Homo sapiens: one gene and its partners. The protein of the gene in region 2 interacts with the protein of the main gene of each other region in a pairwise test. Each region holds a gene or a part of one and is shown on either strand. Other genes may lie near its edges.

Evidence for each region. Proteins that work in one complex are often made in the same cells at the same time.
Region 1: the proteins of FCHSD2 (region 2) and CDK18 interact in binary tests that used the Homo sapiens proteins (3 or more experiments, as listed by UniProt).
Region 3: the proteins of FCHSD2 (region 2) and ACAP1 interact in binary tests that used the Homo sapiens proteins (3 or more experiments, as listed by UniProt).

Annotation. Positions count from the first base shown.
Region 1 is NC_000001.11:205,521,661-205,528,685, reverse strand, and holds part of CDK18 (cyclin-dependent kinase 18), read right to left. Parts: intron 5,540-7,025; 5' UTR 5,519-5,539; coding exon 5,389-5,518; intron 5,204-5,388; coding exon 5,061-5,203; coding exon of another isoform or gene 4,971-5,060; intron 4,455-4,970; coding exon 4,329-4,454; intron 3,548-4,328; coding exon 3,491-3,547; intron 2,622-3,490; coding exon 2,507-2,621; intron 2,320-2,506; coding exon 2,225-2,319; intron 1,912-2,224; coding exon 1,849-1,911; intron 893-1,848; coding exon 769-892; intron 639-768; coding exon 518-638; intron 1-517. UniProt on the Homo sapiens protein: May play a role in signal transduction cascades in terminally differentiated cells.
Region 2 is NC_000011.10:73,132,305-73,139,329, forward strand, and holds part of FCHSD2 (F-BAR and double SH3 domains protein 2), read right to left. Parts: intron 1-7,025. UniProt on the Homo sapiens protein: Adapter protein that plays a role in endocytosis via clathrin-coated pits. Contributes to the internalization of cell surface receptors, such as integrin ITGB1 and transferrin receptor.
Region 3 is NC_000017.11:7,339,521-7,346,545, reverse strand, and holds part of ACAP1 (arf-GAP with coiled-coil, ANK repeat and PH domain-containing protein 1), read right to left. Parts: intron 4,599-7,025; coding exon 4,479-4,598; intron 4,272-4,478; coding exon 4,218-4,271; intron 4,131-4,217; coding exon 4,072-4,130; intron 3,168-4,071; coding exon 2,984-3,167; intron 2,841-2,983; coding exon 2,796-2,840; intron 2,686-2,795; coding exon 2,590-2,685; intron 2,498-2,589; coding exon 2,423-2,497; intron 2,008-2,422; coding exon 1,898-2,007; intron 303-1,897; coding exon 251-302; intron 156-250; coding exon 55-155; intron 1-54. UniProt on the Homo sapiens protein: GTPase-activating protein (GAP) for ADP ribosylation factor 6 (ARF6) required for clathrin-dependent export of proteins from recycling endosomes to trans-Golgi network and cell surface.

The DNA of each region.
Region 1 (7,025 bases), on a different chromosome or scaffold from region 2:
AACTCTCTCCACTGTGTGCCCCACTGGAAGAGAAGTACATAAATCCATTCTCCTGGGGAACCTTGGGGCGGAGTCACAGCAGCCATTCATAACCACCGGCGGCTTGGCTTGCAATTTGGGCTGATTTTTCATTTTACACCAAATCATACACTTGTTCATTTTAACATAAAAATAGTACTTCTCTTTCAAAATTTTCACTGGGACTGATGCTTGGGGAAGATTCATCGTATTTACTATAGGGGCCCTCCTGGACCCTCTGGGTCTCTGGTAACCCCCCACAGGCCTCTGGGGGAGGATTTCAAATGCACAGGCTTGGGGGTCTATTTAAGCCAGGGAAACCCTAACCTATTATATTTCAGACCTAATTTTTTAACATCCATTTCAGCAGGATGTCACAAGGCTTTTAGGCAAAGGAAGTTAGGCAGTTCTTCCCCGAGGCCCTTGGGGAAGCAAAGGAGAGTCTGGAGGTGTGGCCAGGCCTGTCCTCCCCTCCTCGGTCCCCACAGTGCTCACTCACCACATATCAATGGGGGTGGAGTACTCTGTGGATCCCAGCAGCACATCGGGGGGCCTGTACCACAGGGTCACCACCTCATTGGAGTAAGTCTTTGTGGGCACTGACTTGGCCCTGGCCAGTCCTGGGGGCAGACATGTCACTGGACCTCTGTCCACAGGTGCTGTGGGGTTGACTGCTATGCCCTCCCCCACTGCACCCACACCCTGAGGCACCCCAGTAGCGTCAGACCCCCACCCTAGCCCCAGCCTCACCAAAGTCGGCCAGCTTCAGCTCCCCCCTCTCGTTGATGAGCAGGTTCTGGGGCTTCAGGTCCCGGTGCAGGATCTTGCGGTGGTGACAGTAGGCGAGGCCCCGGAGCAGCTGGAACATGAAAATCTGGGGGAGGGGGAAGAGAAATGTGGGGTGGAAGGTGGCCCTGAGCCTCTGCTCCAAGGCTGGGACCAGGATGGGGGCAGGGGCTTGGCAGTGAGGTCAGCACAAGCCCCTCATTCTCCTGCACACCCTGCAGCCCCCATCCTGGACCCCACCCACACCAGGGAATCCCATCCAGAGGGGAGGACAGCAGGGGTGCAGAGGACGCAGTGAGTGTGGGGGAGGCCAGCGAAGTCTCAGTCAGGAGCACGGGGGTCAGGATGCCCGCCTATGTGGAGACATATGTGCTTGATCCCTTTTTTTTTTTTTTTTCTTTTAGAGTCAGGGTTTTACTCTGTCACCCAGGCTGGAGTGCAGTGGTGTGATCATGGCTCACTGCAGCCTCAACCTCCCGGGCTCAAGTGGCCCTCCTGCCTCAGCCTCTCAAGCAGCTGGGACTATGGGTGCACGCTACTGTGCCCGGCTAATTTTTCAATTTTTAGTAGAGATGAGGTCTTGCCATGTTGCCCAGGCTGGTCTCAAACTCCTGGGCTCAAGCCATCTTCCTGCCTTGGCCTCCCAGTGCTGGGATTACAGGCGTGGGCCACCATGCCCAGCCTTGATTCTTTAACAAACACCAGGAGAGGTCATTCATAACCCCGAGCTTCCCCAGAAGCCTCCCTGCATTTTGGCAGGTAGCTCACACTCCCATTTGACAGACTGGGAAACTGATGTTCAGAGTTGAGAGTGGGTTTTATACCAACAGCTAGACAGTGGCAGACAGTGTGTGTCTGTTCTTGGGGTAAAGCGCTCAACCCAGTTCCTGGACTCGTTGATGGCATTGCCCTCTCCCTCTTTCCTACGTGGGAAGGTCTGAGCCACCTCAGCAGCCGGATCCCTGGTGGTGAGAGTGGGTCCCCACACTGGGCTTCTGGACAGGTGGCTGCCAAGATGGGGGGACCCTGCCCCCGAGGCCTCACCTTGACGTTGTGCATGCTCATGAGGTTCCCACAGTGGTCCAGATACTGCTTCAGGTCACTGTCCTGGAACACAGAGCGTGGCTCAGTCCTGCCCCACGCTGACCCCTGGCCAGAAGCCCAGACACAGGCTGAGGAGAGGAAGCCCCTCCCTGGGAAGGGCCCACGCCCACTAGTGGGACAGGTCCCTGGCTCGAGCCACCCGTAAGCCTGAGCTCTTGGCCCACTCCTGCACGGGAGCATCTGAAAATCTGATTCCAGAACAAGGCCTGGGTCGCCCTCATCCCACTACTCCCACTCCCTCAGCTTCCCACTCCCCTACCCACACCCCGTTTCCACCACAAGAGGGAGAGGCGGCCAGCCCCAGCCGGACTCTCACCAGGTACTCAAACACCAGGGTGAGGGACCGATCTGTGTGGATGAGGTCATGCAGGGTCACAATATTGGCGTGCTTCAGGTTCTTCAGCAGAGACACTGTGAGGAGACAGATCCACCTGGGTCCCTAGGACCCCATGTGTCCCCATACCCTCTTTTCTTGGGGTCAGCGCCAGGAGTCCCATTCCAGCAATGATCCTCTACCCCCAGCTCCCACAAGGGTGCAGGCTGGTGAACCCCTCCTCCTGAAGCCCCCAGGGGAGCGTGGGAGCCTAGGATGCTGTACCCTCTCGGATGGCAGTGCAGGGCGCTCCCTCCTCGTGCTCCAGCCGGATCTCTTTCAGGGCCACAAGGTTCTCCGTCAGTTTGCTGCGCCCTTTGAAGACTGTGGCATAGGTGCCCTGGGATGGAGGGCCACAGCGGCCCCAGGCGCATTCAGGTGCTGCTGGCCTCTGTCCAGTGCCTCCCCATTTGTGCCTCTGCCTGGGCTACGACTGGGGCCTGAGTGCCCTTCCTCCCTTTACTGACATGCTGTTTCCTCCAAAGCCTACTTCCTCCAGGAAGCATCCCTAATGACTCCCCAGTCGGAGTGAATCCGTCCTTCCTCTAAGCCCCAGCACGCCGCGTGCCCGTCTATGATAACACCAGGTTTTTTCTTCCTTATACGATGCTGATGTTTACACAGAGGTCACCTCTTTGGGCTCCTGGAGGGAAAGGGCTGTGTGTTCCCTCTCTCTATAAACCTTCACCCACCCCAGGCCTCTGCACAGTGACAACAAAAATAGCTAAGTGACACAGCACTTCCTATGTGCCAGGCATTGTCTGTGTGCCGTACATAAGCTGATTACAGTAACCTGCCCAATCCTCACAATAACCCTATGTGATAGGACAATTACTGTCTCATTGGACAGAGGAAGAAACTGAGGCACACAGAGAGGTCATGTAACTTGCCAAAGGTCACAGAGCTAGTAAATGGTGGAGCTAGGTTTTGAACCCAGGCAAGAAGGACTTGCAGAAAAAAAAAAGACTGGATTCTGCCCAGGGCCATGGCTACTCTATCCTCACGCCCTCCTTCAGGATCTGAGCTCACTTCAATCCCTGCCAAAGCCTGGGCCAGAGCGCACAGCCAAGACTGTGCACCTCTATGGGGCAGGGGCCAGGAGAGGGCCAACCAGAGAGGGCCGACCAGAGAGGGCCGACTAGGGAGGTCTGCCCCTCCTCCAAGCCATCCTGCCTGGCTATTCGGAGAAGACCAAACCCAGCGTCTTACCTCTCCCAGTTTGTCCAGTTTCACGTATGTTTCCAGTTTCCCAAAGCCAATGTCTGACTGAGAGGGAGAGACATAGAATGCCGTGAGCTTGAAGCCCTTAGCAGCTCCACAGACATGACGCCTCCCCCAACTCCAGCCTCTGGGAGGGAAGGGATGAGACTCCATGGTGGAAGGGGCTCCTTTTCCCTTTATCCCTGTGATAAAGGACAGAGCTCGTGAAAGTGTGAGTTTCTTCCTCCCAGGACAGCCAAGAGTGTAGAGCCCAGAGCTGTGGCACCTGGGATTGTTGCACATCTTGACTACCTGTGTCTCCGACTGAGACCACGAGCTCCTCCAGAGTGAGTGCTGCCTTTTTTCCCATTGTACCTTGAGTGTCCAGTTCAGAATCCACCTCTCTGACTGTGTCTCTCATCAGCGCACTTCTAGCTCAGGTGTATCCAACCCTTAACAAGACGGATTCCTGGACCCCCTAGCCGGAGAGGCTGATTCTATAGGTGTCTGGAGGTAGAGTCTGTGTTTTGTAAGATGTCCCAAACAGCTCTGATAGGCAGTTAGGACTGGAAGGCACATGCCAGCTGGCCTATTGATCTTAACCATGTGGAGACCGTGGGACCCACTGTGGGCTTAGAGTCCCATTCCAGCCCAAGTGAGACCCATCTAGGAAATGGATGTTGATGTAGGAGGACGAGCTAGTTGAATGCACTCAAGCCAGCAGGTGGCACCAGAGGCCCAGGAATCTTCCTCGAAATCCCATCTAGGCCTCAGCTGGGACTGATATGCCCATGCTGGGGAGGGCATATCACCCCACCTTGTGTCCTCTGACCCTCTTGGGACTCACCAGGGAGGCCCGGCGGGACATGCGGCTGAGCGGCTTGGGCAGATCTGGGCTCTCCATCTGTAGCTTCTGTAGGAATTCCTGGGGCAGGCGGATATCCATGGGCAGAGAGAGCCTCTTGCTGACGTCCTGTGGTGACAGGGATGAGATGGGGACACCACTGTTGGTTTCAGGGTAGCTAGGGCTGTGGGGCTCCAGACTTTCACTCTGGACCTAGCGTTCCCTGCAGAACAACCATTCAGAGCCCAATCACAGGCTGTGACCCCAGGCTCACAGCTGCTCCCAGTGTGTGCTCAAGACATACACGTGAACACCCGGGGCTGCTGTGTGACCTTAGCACAGCCAGGTCACTCTCTGCCTCTCTGGGCCACAGTATCACCATCTGTGCAACATCAGTCTCATGCCCTTACAGGCACCGATTCTGTAAGTATATTTTTTCATATACTTGGGCATATGTGTGTGGATCAAATAGTCAAATTGTCTAGCCCTTGCTAAATTCAGGAATGTTCTAAGCACTTGGCATAGATAAACCCATTTAATCCATGATGACCATTTTAAAGACAAGGAGACCATGGTGCACAGAGGTTGAGTAACTTGCTCAAAGTCACAGAGCTAATGAATGGCAGAGGTGGAATTTGAACTCACAAAGTCTGGCTGTAAGGCAGCTGCCCTCCTGTGCACACCCTTGTGCGTGCATCCTGCCACCTGCCGGGGCAGAGCTCCAGAGGCCCTTACCTCCATGGAGAAGCGGCGCTGGTTCTGCCGCCGCTGGAACTGCACGCCAGGGGAGAGCTGCCCCGGCTCCTCCCCGCTGTCTGTTGGGGAGAAGGTGCTGCACTCCTGCGGGGGGTCTCTGCCAAGAGGACCGAGCTGCAAGTCTAAGAGGGACAGGCGTCAGCTCCCCTCCCTGCCTCTCTGTCCTGAGGGAGAGAAGGGTAGCCCCCCTCCCCCAGCGCTGTGCTCCTCCCCTAAGGCCAGTGGGGAGGGGGTGGGCGGGGAGGGGAAGGTGACTGGGGAGTGTCTGGTAGGTGGGAGAGGTGCTGGGTGGGCCCAGACCCCTCACTCTCATTCCGCCGGTTGTGGAGCTGGTTGAATTGCTCCGTGAATTCAGCCAAGGATTCTTCAATGGTCTCAGTGCGGGGCACTGACAGGGAGAAACGGCGCTTAAAGTTCTTCATCTTGTTCATGATCATGAGGGACTGGGCAGCCGGGTCCTGAGATGGGAAGTGTGAGAAGAGCAGTTGAAAAGAACAAGGCAACCAGTCCAGGTCTCCACCCACTGGGAATTCAGCTCTCTCATCAAGCTCTGTCGCCCTGTATGCCACCATCACTGGGAGCCAGGGTTGTGTCTTCTGCAAAGTTTGACCCCTCTGAGGGTGGGTGTTCACCCTCTTCTTCCCAGTCACCTTCTTCCTCCCAGTGACCCTCAGCACTGCCTCCACTGCCCACCGCCCGCCCCGCCACGCCCTGTGCAGTTCTCTATGGACCACCTAGTCCAGCAAAGTATTGGTCATAATAGCAGGCATGATGTGCAAAGAGGATCCTGAAGGCCCCCCAGACCTAAGCCCTTTAGCTGCTGGAGGTCTAGAGAGTTCTGGGGGAAGGGCTGGGGTGGCAGGGAGGGTGCCAGAACCAGGCAGTCCTTGGACCAGCAGAAATTTACCAACTTGTGTCCAAGGGCCTGAATGTGTCAACAGCCAATAAATCTTACTGACCAAGGCCCGTAAACTGAATGTCAGCTTGGCCAACACCCTTGGGACATGATTGGGTCCAAACCTCATTTCACCTCTGATACTGACACCTGAAGGTCTCTGCTCTGGCATGCCCCAGGAGGCAAGAGGGGAAAAAGAGGAGGAAGGGAAGAGTGCATCAGAGCTGGCCAGCTGCACCTTCTCTCCAGCTGAAATACAGGAGGTCAGGAGCAGTGGAAGGTCTCAGGGGAAACACGGAAGCTTGCCATTAATAGAGTCGAGCCCTAGGGAAGATGAGGCTTGATCCCTGCAGGCCTCTTCCCATGCCAGAGCCCTCCAAGCAGGCAGGTATCCCCTACCGAGAACACCATGGAGGAGCGGGGTAAGCTGCTCTGCCCACCCCCACGGTCCTGTCCCCAACCATGAAAGCTTTCTTCTTCAGGCTACCCAGCTCCTCGTGCCCTCTGAATTAGAGGATGCCCTGCTGGCCACCCAATGAGACCCATGCAACTGCTTCTTCCTGCAGACCCTCCCTTCTCCCTCCTGCCCTGAAAACCCAGAGCAGCGCTGTCTCACCTCCCCTCCACTTCCCTTCATGGTTTCCTACACGCTCAGTGCAGCCCCCCTCTCATCCTGCTCTGCACACACTGCCCTTGAGGCCTCACAAGGGCTTCCACCCATGCTGGCAAGAAGGCACCAGGGGGTGAGCCCTATGATGGGCCGCCCTGCACCCGCTCCCAGCTGTTACCCATGCACCAGCACCAGGCACAGCCCACTCCTGGAGGATGCTCTCAGCCCTGCGACTGGCCAGCACCTAGTTGCCAAGGCGACCAGGCCCTTCCCGAATCCTCCTGGTTTAAGGGATTATGGGTCAGTAACATGTTGGCTTTGCTTAATGATCACATCCTTCTGTCCTCAGCCAGCCTGGAAAGGGTCCTCTGTCTGGCAGCGCATGCTCCTGGCTGCCCCCAAACACAGCTCAGTGGTGGCCCTCCAGCTGCCCTGATCC
Region 2 (7,025 bases):
TACCATTCTTGGCATTTCACCTGTCTCATTTTACTTTCACAGAAAAGCAAAAAGGTCAATATTAATCTTGTTTCACACATACAAAATACTGAAGCTCAGAAAAGCTAAGCCACTTGTCCAAGATTACCCAGCTAATAAGCAGCAGAGCTGGGTTTCAATCTACGGCCTACCTTCAAAGCTCTTGTTTCCATTACCAGTGGTTCTCAAAATTAAGTGCACATAAAAAACTCAGGTGAAGACAGGCACTGTGACTCATGCCTGTAATCCCAGCACTTTGGCAGGCTGAGTCAGGTGGATTGCTTGAGCCCAGGAGTTTGAGACCAGCCTGGACAACATGGCAAAACCCCATCTCTACAAAAAAATACAAAAATTAGCTGGGCATGGTGGTGTGCAACTGTAGTCCTAGCTACTCCGGAGGCTGGGGTGAGAGGATTGCTTGATCCCAGAAGGTGGAGATTGCAGTGAGCCATGACCATGCCCCCTGCACTCCAGTCTGGGTGACAGAATGAAACGGTAACAGAAAAAAAAAAAAAAAAAACCTCAGGTGATTCTTCCATAGAATGGGAAAAAAATACTGCATATATTTGCAAATCATATATGTTATAAAGAACTCTTAAAATTCAATAAAAATGATTTTTTAAATGGGCAAAGTACTTGAATAGACATTTCTTCAAAGAAGATATACAAATGGCCAATAAGCACATGAAAAAATGCTCACCATCATAAGTTGTTAGAAAAATGCACGTCAAAGCCACTTACAATATCACTTCACATCCACTAGAATGCCTATAATCAAAAAGACAGACAATAACATGCACTGGCCATGACGTGGAGAAATAGGACCCATCATGTATTATTGCTGGTGGGAATATAAAATGGAGCAGCTATTTTGGAAAACAGTTTGAAAGTTCCTCAAAAAGTTAAACATAGAGTTACCATATGACCCAGACATTCCATTTTTAGGTATATATCCAAAAGAAAAACATATATCCATACAAAAACTTATACATGAAATGTTCATAGCAGCATTATTAATAATAGTAAAAAGTAGAAACAACCCATATCTCTGTCAACTGATGAAGGGATTAATAAAATGTGGCATATCCATACAATGGGGTATTATTTGGCAATAAAAAGGAATGAAGTAATGATACTACAACCTGATGAATCTTGAAAACATTACACCAGGCTGGGCGCAGTGGCTCATGCCTGTAATCCCAGCACTTTGGCAGGCCAAGGCAGGTGGATCACTTGAGGTCAGGAGATGGCCAAACCCCATCTCTACTAAACATCACTGAGGCTTTGAGATGGCAAAACCCCATCTCTACTAAAAATTGAAAAATTAGCTGGGTACGGTGGCGGGCACCTATAATCCCAGCTACTCAGGAGGCTGAGGCAGAATTGCATGAACCCAGGAGGCGGAGGTTACAACGAGCCGGCATCGCGCCACTGCACTCCAGTATGGGTGACACAGAGAAACTCCGTCTCAAAAAAAAAAAAAAAAAAAAAAAGTAACCATTATGCCAAAAGAAACCAGTCGCAAGATTCCACTTCTATAGAGACAGAAAGTAGATAAGTGGTTGCTTAAGGCTGGAGAGGGTTATGGGGAGCGACTGCTAATGGGTACCAAGTTTCTTTTAGGGGTAACTAAAACATTTTAAATTGGCGTGACGATTGTACAATCCTATAAAAAAAAAGTTGAATGGTACACTTTAAATGGGATACGTAATCATATATGATATACAGTCACATCATGTAACTTACATGATATGTACATTGTATATAAATAAAGCCTTAAAAAAAAAAACTCTAGACCAGATTAGATTACCTCTAAGATCTCTTTCTAGATACAACAGTCTCTGAGACACTGAAAAAAAGTCTCAGCACCATGCACAGTGGCTCATGCCTGTAACCCCAACACTTTGGGAGGTCAAGGTGGGAGGATCACTTGAGCCCAGGAGTTCGAGACCAGCTGGGGCAACATAGTGAAACCCTCTCTCTACAAAAAATACAAAATTAGCCAGGCATGGTGGTGCATGCCTGTGGTCCCAGCTACTCAGGAGGCTGAGGTAGAAGGATCACTTAAGTCTGAGAGGTTGAGGCTGCAGTGAGCCATGATCACACCACTGTGCTCCAGCTTGGGTGACAGGGCGAGACCCTGTCTCAAAAAAAAAAAGTCTCAGAACATCCATAAACAGACCTTGGAATCCAATCTCCCATGACTCCTGGGAATCTACAGTTCAGAGAAAGTAACATACAGTACAGTAATTCCTCACTTGAGGTCTCTAGACCACCAGGTGTCTGCAAAGGCAGGACAGGTGCTTCTTGAGCCAGTTTCAATTCTTCAGAACATCTATAAGAAATCACATATTCAGCCTTCTCTGGGATAAAGTTTTTTAAGTGTCTTTGACTTTGGTGAAACTCACGTTAACGGTTTGAAAATAGTGATTTGGAGCTGATCGACAGCTCAATGTATCAAAAAATAAGAAAACAAATTATTCCCTGATAATATACTGTTTTCTGGGGGGGAGTTTGTTTTTTGGTTTTTGGTTTTTTTTGAGACAGAGTCTAGCTCTGTCACTCAGGCTGGAGTGCTGTGGCACTATCTCAGCTCACTGCAACCTCCACCTCCCAGGTTCAAGTGATTCTCCTGCCTCAGCCTCCCAAGTAGCTAGAGTAGCTAGGATTATAGGTGTGCGCCACCATGCACACCTAATTTTTGTATTTTTAGTAGAGACAGGGTTTCACCATGTTGGCCAGGCTGGTCTCGAACTCCTGACCTCAAGTGATCCACCCGCCTTGGCCTCCCAAAGTGCTGGGATCACAGGCATAAGCCACCGCACCCAGCCTCCTGATAATATATTATACTTTTTGATAGGCAAAATATTTTTTACAACTGGACTCATGATGAGTTCCTTGGTTAAAAGCTTGGGAAACACAGATACAGGGGAGAGTACAGTAGTATGGAAATCAGGACAAATAGCTTAGAGTCTTCAACAATATAATTCACTTCATTTCACTGTGCCTCAGTTCCCACTTTCATCTATAAAATGAACAAACATGATAATATCCACCTGACTAAAATTCAATAATTTTTCCATATTATAGACCTCCTTAAACTGTCCTCTAAGAAGGTAGTTCTTTAAATTCTGGGTCACTGCAAAAAATTTTTCTTAACTAACTCTACTCAACATAGCACAGGATAAACAATCCTAAGAAGAAAAGTACACAGACTCTAGTATGTAGAAACTTATTGTAAGTGGTCTTAAAAAGCAAAGAGAAAAAAATATAATAATAAACTAAAAAGAAAGTAGACTCTACTTGTCTACTGCTGATAGCAAAAGTCAACAGGAAACACATCAGTATAAAACCTCCACAAAGCATGGAATGTCCCTGATTAACAACAAATTAGTTGTCTTTTCATCTCAAACTTCACTCCCAAATACTAGCTTCCAAATGCCATTCGCAGAACAAATGAACTGAAAAAGGGGAGGAGAACAAAGGAGAAAAACTGTATCATAATTGGTCTCCTCCCCTCGAAATTCCAAAAGATAAGAACTGGGGATTAAGGGGTGCGTTGCAGCAGTAGTGGCTCATTTCTGTAATCCCAGCACTTTGGGAGGCTGAGTGGGAGAATCACTTGAGCCCAGGAGTTCAAGACGAGCCTGGGCAACAAACAAACCCTGTCTCTACAAAATCTTTAAAATAAGCCAGGCATGGTGGCACGTGCCTATAGTCCTAGGTACTTGGGAGGCTGAGGCAGAAGGATCACCTGAACCCAGGAGGACAAGGACACAGTGAGCTAAGATCACACCACTGCATTCCAGCCTGGGCAACAGAGCAAGACTCTTGTCTCTTAAGAAAAAAAAAAAAAGAAAGAAAAAAGAAGGGACGTAATGGGGAAGAACTAGACAAAATTTAGCATAAAATTCTATTTACAGTCTAATGTGCTGTAGATTTTTTTTTAACTTTTTTCAATGATATAAAAACTTTTGACATTTTCTCAAGCTGGGCACAGTGGCCTGACGGTAGGACTGCTTGAACCCAAAGTTCAAGACCAGCCTGAGTAACATGGTAAGACCCCATGTCTACAAAAAACACAAAAATTAGCCGCGCACCTGGAGTCTCAGCTACCATGGAGGATGAGATGGGAGGATCGCTTGAGCCCGAGAGGAGAGGTTGCAGTAAGCAGAGATCACACCACTGCATTCCAGCCTGGGCAACAGAGTGAGACTGCCTCAAATTTAATAATAATAAAAAAAATTATCTACTACTAATTTCTTTAAGAACACAAAGCTATTTGTACTTTTCTAAGTGAATTCATACTAACTTAAATTGAGCATAAAGTTGGCAGGGGGCACTGGTGAGAAGGAGCACTAGTCTCAAAAGAGGAAAAGCAAGTAAGATCCTTTACAACTTAATTCATATAAAAACCCAAGTTCGGGCCAGGCGCAGTGGCTCATGCCTGTAATCCTAGCACTTTGGGAGGCCGAGGCGGGTGGATCACTTGAGGTCAGGAGTTCAAAAGCAGCCTGGCCAACATGGTGAAACCCAGTCTCTACTAACAATACAAAAAAATTAGCCGGGCGTGGTGGCAGGTGTGGTGGCAGCTACTAGGGAGGCTGAGGCAGGTGAACTGCTTGTACCCAGGAGGCGGAGGTTGCAGTAAGCTGAGATTGCACCACTGCACTCCAGCCTAGCCAACAGAGCGAGACTTTGTCTCAAAAACAAACAAAAAAACATCCAAGTTCAGAGATTTCCAGTGAATTTTTAAAAAATCATTCCACTTACTAGGGCAGACAAGAGAAGCCAGATCACCTCCTTCCTCAGGCAACTGAAGTTATCATGAATACCAAGAGGAGGCAAGTTTCAACTTTTTCAATATTGTCTTTGAAAAAAAAAAGCAAATCAGAAACCTAAACTCTTGTTTTAGTAGGTAATACGGTATCCTATTTACAACTCTATGGGAATGAAAGGATTCATTCCATTAAGTTAATATAGATAGAAGAACACACTAACTCCTTTAAAAAAAACCTGTTAATCCTTGGAGCACCAACAATCTCTGTCTTTACATATTATATACTCTACAACAAACAAGATAGTGTAATTAAAGTGATCACGTGAACCAAAGTATATAACACAAGCTCAACAGAGGCCCCTATAGCTCCCCTACAGAGTGTATACAGTATCTCACCCAAGAAAAAATAAGATACATTTAAATATAGCCAGTTACATTCGACAACAAGGGTATAAAGATACAAAAATGAATAATAGCCCATAACTTCAAAGACTTCATCTGAGGGAGGATGCCAGAACCATGTGCAAAATCAAAATCCTTTGAGATCACAGAGAACAAAGAACTTGCAGTTATTGGTAATCAAGAATTTGTCAGGTGAAAAAGTGGGAGGAAGGGTACCAACAGGCAAAGACAACAGCATACACAGGGGCATGAATGTAGAGTGCACAGTTAGACAACCTGACGTCCCGAGTGACCAGAGCAGGGGGAAGAAAGAGGAAGGATGCATGGGCATGAAACGGTAGTAACTAAGCCAGGAAAGGAAGCTTGCAGCTGGGTTGCAGAGAACCATATATACTATGACAAAGTGTTTGACCTTTATCCAGAAGGCCACAGAGGAGTGATCTATAATAATGTTTTTAGAAAGCTAACTGGTGGTAATGTGGAAGACATATTTAAAAGAAGAGATGGGAGATGGAAGATATAAGGACACTACTGCAATAATTAGGATACTAGTATATTGCAAGCAAAATGTGATGGATCAGCAATAATACAAACTAAGCAACAGCAACAGGAGCAACAGACTATATCAACTTAGCTTAGATGTGTGCCACATCTCATATGTATTGTCATTTGATCAATACAACCTTGGGCAACAGAGGCCATTATTGCCCCATTTTACAAATAAGAAAAATTAAGTTTATAAAGATTAATTCATTTTCTACAAGTCAGCACAGATATCAGGACACAAACTCAGGACTGTCTGACTGCAGTGTCCATATTCTTGACCATAAGCTCCTGCACCAAGCTACAGACAACAGGGGAAAAATGGAGACAAAACGCAATCAAGAAGTCTTTAGAAGACACAACCAACAGAAATTATTACAACTACTGACCACCCATACCCCACACGGGATCTTCACTTACACACTAATTCTGCCTTCCTGAACTGCTTCTGAAAATGTATTACTTTCTTCATCTAGATATTTCTTAGTTTGCTTAATAAGTTAAAAAAACCTTACATTTTTAACCATGTCAAGAGTTTCAGATATCTTGCACAGGAATTTTTTTTTTTTTTTTTTTTTTGAGACAGGGTCTCACTCTGTTGCCCAGGCTGGAGAGCAGTGGTGCCATCTCGGCTCACTGCAACCTCCGCCTACTAGGTTCAAGCAATTCTCTGCCTCAGCCTCCTGAGTAGCTAGGACTACAGGCGCACGCCACCATGCCTGGTTAATTTTTGTATTTTTAGTAGAGACAGGGTTTTATCATGTTGGCCAGGCTGGTCTCGAACTCCTGACCTCAGGTGATCTGCCTGCCTCAGCCTGCCAAAGTGCTGGGATTACAGGTGTCAGTGACTGCGCACGGCCTCGCATAGGAATTTTTAAGTCTAAATATTTTCTTATGGCTATGATAAGGGAAGGAAGACAAATACAGAATTAAAATTGTAATTTTCAGTCAGAAAACAACAATCTTGATATATCCAGGTTGGATGAGAATAGATTTATATGCCTTAGTCATAAACCCTGAAGACAGGTATACAGCAGAAATGCTTATAGTGCCTAAATATAGGAGAGGAAAAAAGGAAATTCTTGAAACTAAAATCTTTGGGCTATAAACAGCAATCCAAACACATAATTTTATCATTAACACCAGAGTTAATATTTTTCATGAAACCAACACGAAGTTAGTGTACCACCAGAAAACTAGGTAACTGATGAGGCTTACAGACCCAATTCCAATTTGATAAATGTATTATACAAGGGAAATAAGAATTGCAGCCACTCTTGCT
Region 3 (7,025 bases), on a different chromosome or scaffold from region 2:
AGATTGGCAGTTGTTTAGATATATTAGAGTATCACCCCTGGGGATTGCACTCACTTGCTGGTGGACACCACCTCAAAGCAGAACCGCCTTTCTGAGTCAGGGCAGAGTTTCACTGTGCAGAGACGAAGGTCATCCACCACCACAGTCACAGGGTCCTGGCAGGATAAGGTGATAAGGGGCCAGATGTCCAGCTGCAGGCAAGAGCTGAGTCTCCCTGGGGCCCAGGCATCCAGGACCCAGGTCCACTCACCTTGTACTTCTTCTGGTAAACCAGTTGGTTGCTCTGAATGGTGAACCAGCGTCTGTAAGAGAAGGAAATCATTACAGACATAGGCAGCTTTAGGATGAGGGACGGAAGAGAGGCTGTGCTTTTTGCCCATGAGGATCTTACTGAGAGGACAGACACCTGGGCTGACTGTTCCACGAGACATTCCAGAGAAGGGTGGACAATTGTGCAGATTGGAACATCTAAAGGATGCTATTCCTATCTTGGACAACCCAGATTTCATATAGTTATGAAGACAACTTTCCAGCAGATGGCAGTAAAATTCTTTTTCTAATAAAATGTCTATTGCTACAATTTAAAAAATACTATTTAGGCTGGGCTCACACCTGTAATCCCAGCACTTTGGGAGGCTGATGGGGGTGGTGGATCACCCGAGGTCAGGAGTTTGAGACCACCCTGACCAATATGGTGAAACTCCGTCTCTACTAAAAATACAAAAATTAGCCAGGCGTGGTGGCAGGCGGCTATAATCCCACCTACTTGGGAGGCTGAGGCAGGAGAATCGCTTGAACCCAGGAAGCTGAGGTTGCAGTGAGCTGAGATCGCACCACTGTGCTGCAGCCTGCGCAACATAGCGAGGCTCCATCAAAAAAGAAAAAAAAAGAAAAAGAAAAAAAGAAAAGAAAGAATCTTGGGGGCCAGGTACAGTGGCTCACGCCTGTAATCCCAGCAAGTTGGGAGGCCGAGGCGGGTGGATTGCTTGATGTCAGGAGTTTGCAACCAGCCTGGGCAACATGGTGAAACCCTGTTTCTACCAAAAATACAAAAATTAGCCGAGCGTGATGGCACACGCCTGTGGTCCCAGCTATTTAGGATGCTGAGGAGGGAGGATCACTTGAACTCAGGGGATAGAGGTTGCAGTGAGCCGAGACTGCGCCACTGCACTGCAGGCTGGGCAACAGAGTGACACCCCATCTCAAAAAAAACAGAAAAAAAAAAAGAAAAGAAAAAGAAAAAAGAGTATCTTGGGGAAGCAGCTCCATTTTCTAATTTGTACAGAGATCCCATGTGGGCTAGCAGTGGCCCTAGAAGGGAAAGGAGTCAAGTCACAGCATGCCACCATCCTGTTCCAAACCCTATAGCGGCTCCCAATTGCTCTCAGAGTAGACCCCAAATCCCTACAAAAATCTATAGGGCCCTATAATGACTCATGCCCCCATTAGCTCCGATTTCATCTCCTGCACATCCTCCTCCCTCACTCTGTCCAGACCCAGGGCCACCACCCTGCTCTTCCAACTCCCCAGCTATCTCAGGGCCTTGGCACTGGCTCTTTCTTCTGTCTAGAACTTTCTTCCCCCAGATATCCTTCAAGTCTTTGTTCAAAAGTTACCTTCTCATGAAGCCCACACTGCCCAACTATTTAGAACTGTAACCCCTACCCAGCTCCCCACATCCCTTGCTTTATCATCTTTCTCCTATAGCAAGCACTATCACCTTCTAACATAGCACGTAATTTACATACTAGGTTTATCCTCTGTCTTTGCTGATGGAATGAAACTCTACTGAGGCAGGGGGGTTCGTCTGTTTTTCCTTGCAGTGCTTAGTGTGCTATTACCACTCGAAAATACATCATTGGGTGGGGCGGGCTGATTGGGGGTGTCCTCTCCTCACCTGCTCCAGGTCTTAAATGCGTTGCTGGCCCGTTTGAAGAGATGTCCTTCCATCACCAGGCCACCAGGCCCCTCTCTTAAGCTTGGTTCTGGCTCCTCCCCACCCAGCTCCTGGAGGCACAAGAGGATCAAAGGGCAACTGAGATGGGCAGACACCAAGGCCATAGGCATCTGCCTCCTGCCCACAGCCCTAGCCCTTACTTTCTGCTTTTTGAAATACTTTTTAAAATTTATTTTTAGAGACAGGGTCTTGTTCTTTCACCCAGGCTTAAGTGCAGTTGTGTGATCATAGCTCACTGCAGTCTTGAACTCCTGGGCTCAAGCAATCCTCCCACCTCAGCCTCCTGAGTAGCTAGAACTAGAGGTGCATGCCACCACACCAGCTAATTTTAAAATTTTCTGTAGAGATGGAGTTTCACTACGATGCCTAGGCTAATCTTGAACTCCAGGCCTCAAGCAATCTTCCCACCTCAGCCTCCCAACATGTTGGGATGACGGTCGTGGGCCACCGCACCTGGCCCCTCACCTTCTGTTTCAGCAGCACGTGTCTCTGCTCCATGTCCCTCTTCTCTCGTGCTGAATTCAAGACCAGCTGGTGCAACTGGGCACAGGAAGGGCATCTCAGATGTCCAAGGCCCCCCAGTTAGGAGTCCCTAACCTCCCTCTACCACCTGCTGTGCCCTGGGGCCCCACCTGGGCGCCCAGCTCCTTTCGATACTGGGACAGCCGGCTCAGCTCCTCATGGCCCTGCTGGAAATGGGTAGCCTGGGCCTCCACCAAACGCAGCACCTGGGGGACAAGGCGGGCAGTGGGAAGGCTGAGGAAGAACCCCTCTCCCCATTCCCTTGTGCTGGCAGCAGGCTCTTCTCCACCCTGCCCTCACCCCCGCCACAACTCACAAACTCCATGATGTCAAACTTCCTCTTGTCCTCAATCACGTTGATCTGAGGACGTAAAAGAGGACGTAAAAAACCCCAGATCAGTCTTGAAGACACAGCACCCCTTCCCACTGCACACTGGAGACCCCCAAGCCTCGAGGTGACACTTGAGGCTCTGGTACCCCAGGAAGACAGATTGGGGCAGGCACCTGCAGGGCATAATCCAGTGCCCGTCCCCGGTACCCAGCTCGAGCCGTCCTCAAAGCAGCTCCTGCCTCTTCTGCCTCCTGGGCCCGGCGCCTGGGAACCTCTGCGTTGTGGGTCAGGGCAGCCTCCAGGCTCTCAGCCCCCCGCCAGAAATCCCGGCGAGCCTCTCGGAAACCCCGCAGACCTCTGAGGATGGGAAAATAACACAGAATCGCAGCTAACACCCACCTGCCCCAGCAGAGCATTCCCAGGGTAAAGCCCTCATGTCCTTTCAGTTAGTCTCTGCAACGTGGGAAACCCAAGGTGATCCCTGGGACGGAAGTCAGGACACCAGAAACCCCCAATCTCACAACTCCGTCACTGGGGAGGCTCCTGTGGCCATGGGAAGAGGGCAGCAGGGCTGGTTTCCGAGAAATAAGGCCCCCTTCTCTCCCATCTCACTCCCCCTTTAAAAAATTTTTGTTGTTGTTGTTGTTTTTGTTTTTGAGACCGGGTCTTGCTCTGTTACCCAGGCTGGAGTACAGTGGCACAATCATGGCTCACCGCAGCCCTGACCTCCAGGCTCAAGCAATTCTCCTGCCTCAGCCTCCCAAGAAGCTGGGACAACAGACATGTGCCACCACGCCCGGCTATTTTTTTTTTTTTTTTTTTTTTTTTGAGGCAGAGTCTCACTCTGTTGCCCAGGCTGAAGTGAAGTAGTGCGATCTTGGCTCACTGCAACCTCCACCTCCTGGGTTCAAATGATTCTCCTGCCTCGGCCTCCTGAGTAGCTGGGATTACAGGCACCTGCCACCATGCCCGGCTAATTTTTTTTTTTCGTATTTTTTAGTAGAGCTGGGGTTTTGCCATGTTAGACAGGCTGGTCTCGAACTCCCGACCTCAGGTGATCCGCCCGCCTTGGCCTCCCAAAATGCCGGGATCATAGGCATGAGCCACCGTGCCCGGCCTAATTTTTGTATTTTTTGTGGAGACAGTTTCGCCATGTTGGCTAGGTTGGTGTCCAACTCCTGGGCTCAAGCAATCCTCCCGCCTTGGCCTTCCAAAGTGTTGGGATTACAGGCATGAGCCACTGCGCCCGGCCCCATCTCACTCCTTGACCAGGGTCTGGATCTGCTGCTGCAGTGTGTGTTGGGTGGCATCTAGAAGCTCCTGAGGGAAGGAGAAGTTGGTAGACTGGGGTCAGGACCACAGGTGACCTGGCCACCACCCCGACAATCCTTACCTTCCCCTACTTACCGCATGGCTGTCCAGCTTGTGGTTCAGGCTCACGGTGAATTTTTCCAGACACTCCTAGGCAAGAAGAGGCACAGAAAGAGTACCAGGCATGGGGTGGCAGCACCCTCCCGACTCGAGACCCAGCCTGCTACGGCTGTCATGGACAGCAGCCCAGCCCTGCTGTGGCCTGGAACCTGCAGACCCCAGGCCAGCCCTCCTCTTCCACAGCATCACCTCCTCATCCCAGACCCCTTCCCTCCCAGATGCAGACCCTCCGCATACCGCCATCATGGGCTCTGGTGGACCCAGGCGGGCCAGGTCACAAATGCCGACAACGAAGGCGCGGCTGGCAGCAAGGTAATGGCGCCCACTTTCCAGGAGACCAGTGCCCAGTTTCAGGAGCTGGGAAAGAAGGAGGGTAACAGGGAGCTGTGCCATCATCCTCACACCTGGTGATGCCCCCACACCTGCCCCACTTCCTCTCCCCTTGCCCAGGGCGGCGCTCCCCTATTCCTGCCTGGCCTCACTGCCCTCCAGGCTCATCCAGCTCTCCCTGTATCTAACACATACCTGCTGTGTTCTTATCGCTGCGTCTTTGCTCCCACTGCCTTGGGCCTGAAACCCAATTCCTGCCCATTCCTCTCAGCCTGTCGCCAACACCTCTGTCAGCCTTACCTCCAAAACATCTTTCCCTGTCCACTCGCACATATCTCTTCCTGCCCTGCCTACCTGCTTAGATCCAGAGCTCCGTGGAGATTCCTGCATGGTCTGGATGCTCTACCTGGTTGCTATTAAATTCTACAGTATTGGCCGGGCGTGGTGGCTCACACCTGTAATCCCAACCCTTTGGGAGGCCAAGGCGGGCCAGTCGCTTGAGCTCAGGAATTCAAGAGCAGCCTGGGCAACATGGTGAAACCTCATCTCTACTAAAAATTCAAAAATTAGCCAGGCATGGTGGCACATGCCTGTAATCCCAGCTACTTGGGAGGCTAAGGCAGGAGGACTGCTTGAACCCGGGAGGCTGAGGCTGTAGTGAGCTGAGATGGCACCAAGTGCCTATAATCCCAGTTACCTGGGGGGCTAAGGCAGGAGGACTGCCTGAATCCGGGAGGTCAAGGCTGCAGTGAGCCGAGATGGCGCTACTGCACTCCAGCCTGGGTGACAGACCGAGACTCTGTCTCGAAAAATAAATAAATAAATAAAATCTATAGTATTTACTGCTAGGAGTTGTCCCATTCTGTGCTCACTGCACGTTCCCTCATAAATATTAATCCATCATCTAGACCACGGGTCAGGGCCAAGAGGAAATGCCGGGGTACTCCTGGGGCCCATCCTATCTGGCTCTTTTGACTGACAAAGAGACTTGATAGGCCAGGCAAGGTGGCTCAGACCTGTAATCTCAACACTTTGGGAGGCTGAGGTGGGTGGATCACCTGAGGTCAGGAGTTGGATATCAGCCTGACCAACATAGTGAAACCCCATCTCTTTTTATTTTTCTATTTTTGAGACGGAGTTTTGCTCCGTTGCCCAAGCTGGAGTGCAATGGCATGATCTTGGCTCACCACAACCTCCACCTCCCAGGTTCAAGCGATCCTCCTGCCTCAGCCTCCAGAGTAGCTGGGATTACAGGTGCCCGCCACCACGCCCAGCTAATTTTTTGTATTTTTAGTAGAGACGGGGTTTCACCATGTTGACCAGGCTGGTCTCGAACTCCTGACTTCAGGTGATCCACCTGCTTCGGCCTCCCGAAGTGCTGGGATTACAGGCATGAGCCACTGCACCTGGCCTGACCGAGATCAAATCTTATCAGACATCACCATGGGTTGTCTGTGACAAGGTACAAGGATGTTCACAAATCACTGTGTGAATCTGAGGACTCTGTGTCTAGTTTTTTTCCTTACCATCTCAGCCCCTCCCCCTTAGATGAGTAAGAAACTTTCATAACACTGGACTAGTGACAGACTGGGACATCTGTTCAATAGAACAGTACTCAGCAATAAAAAGGAACAAACTGTTGATATGTGCAACAACTTGGATAAACTTCAAGAGCATTCATCTTTTAAAAAATTATGATTATTTTTAGAGTTGAGGTCTCTGTCGCCCAGGCTGGAGTGCAGTGGTGGGATCATAGCTCACTGCAGCCTTGAACTCCTGGGTTCAAGGGATCCTCCAATCTTAGCTTCCTGAGTAGCTGAGACTACAGGCACACACCACCATGCCTGGCTAATTTAAAAACAAAACAGAACATTATTTAGAGACAAGGGTCTTGCTATGTTGCCCAGGCTGGTCTCGAGCTTCTGGCCTCAAGCAACCCTCCTACCTTGACCTCCTGAGTAGTTGGGATGACAGGCATGAGCGACCACACCCGGCAGCAGCATTATTCTGAGTGAGGGGGGAGGGGGAAGCCAAATCTCAAAGGGTCACATAGTGTATGATTCTATATATGGAACATTCTGGAAATGACAAAAGTAGAGAGATGGAGAACAAATCAGCGGTTACCACAGATTAAAGAAGTGTGGGAAGGGTGTCGGGTACCACTGTAAAGGAATTCCTTGTGTCCATTGGTGTGTGGTGATGGTTAAAGGAATCCATACACGTGATAAAGTACCATAGAATTATACACAAAAACACCAAAAAAGAGTATATGCAAAATGTAAAATCAAAGTAGGATCTATAGAGTTTATTTATTTATTTAGAGACAGAGTCTTGGTCTGTCGCCCACGCCGGAGTGCAGTGGCACGATCTCGGCTCATTGCGACCTCCGCAGGCTGGAGTGTGGTGGCGTGATCTCGGCTCACTGCAACCTCCGCCTCCTGGGTTCAAGCAATT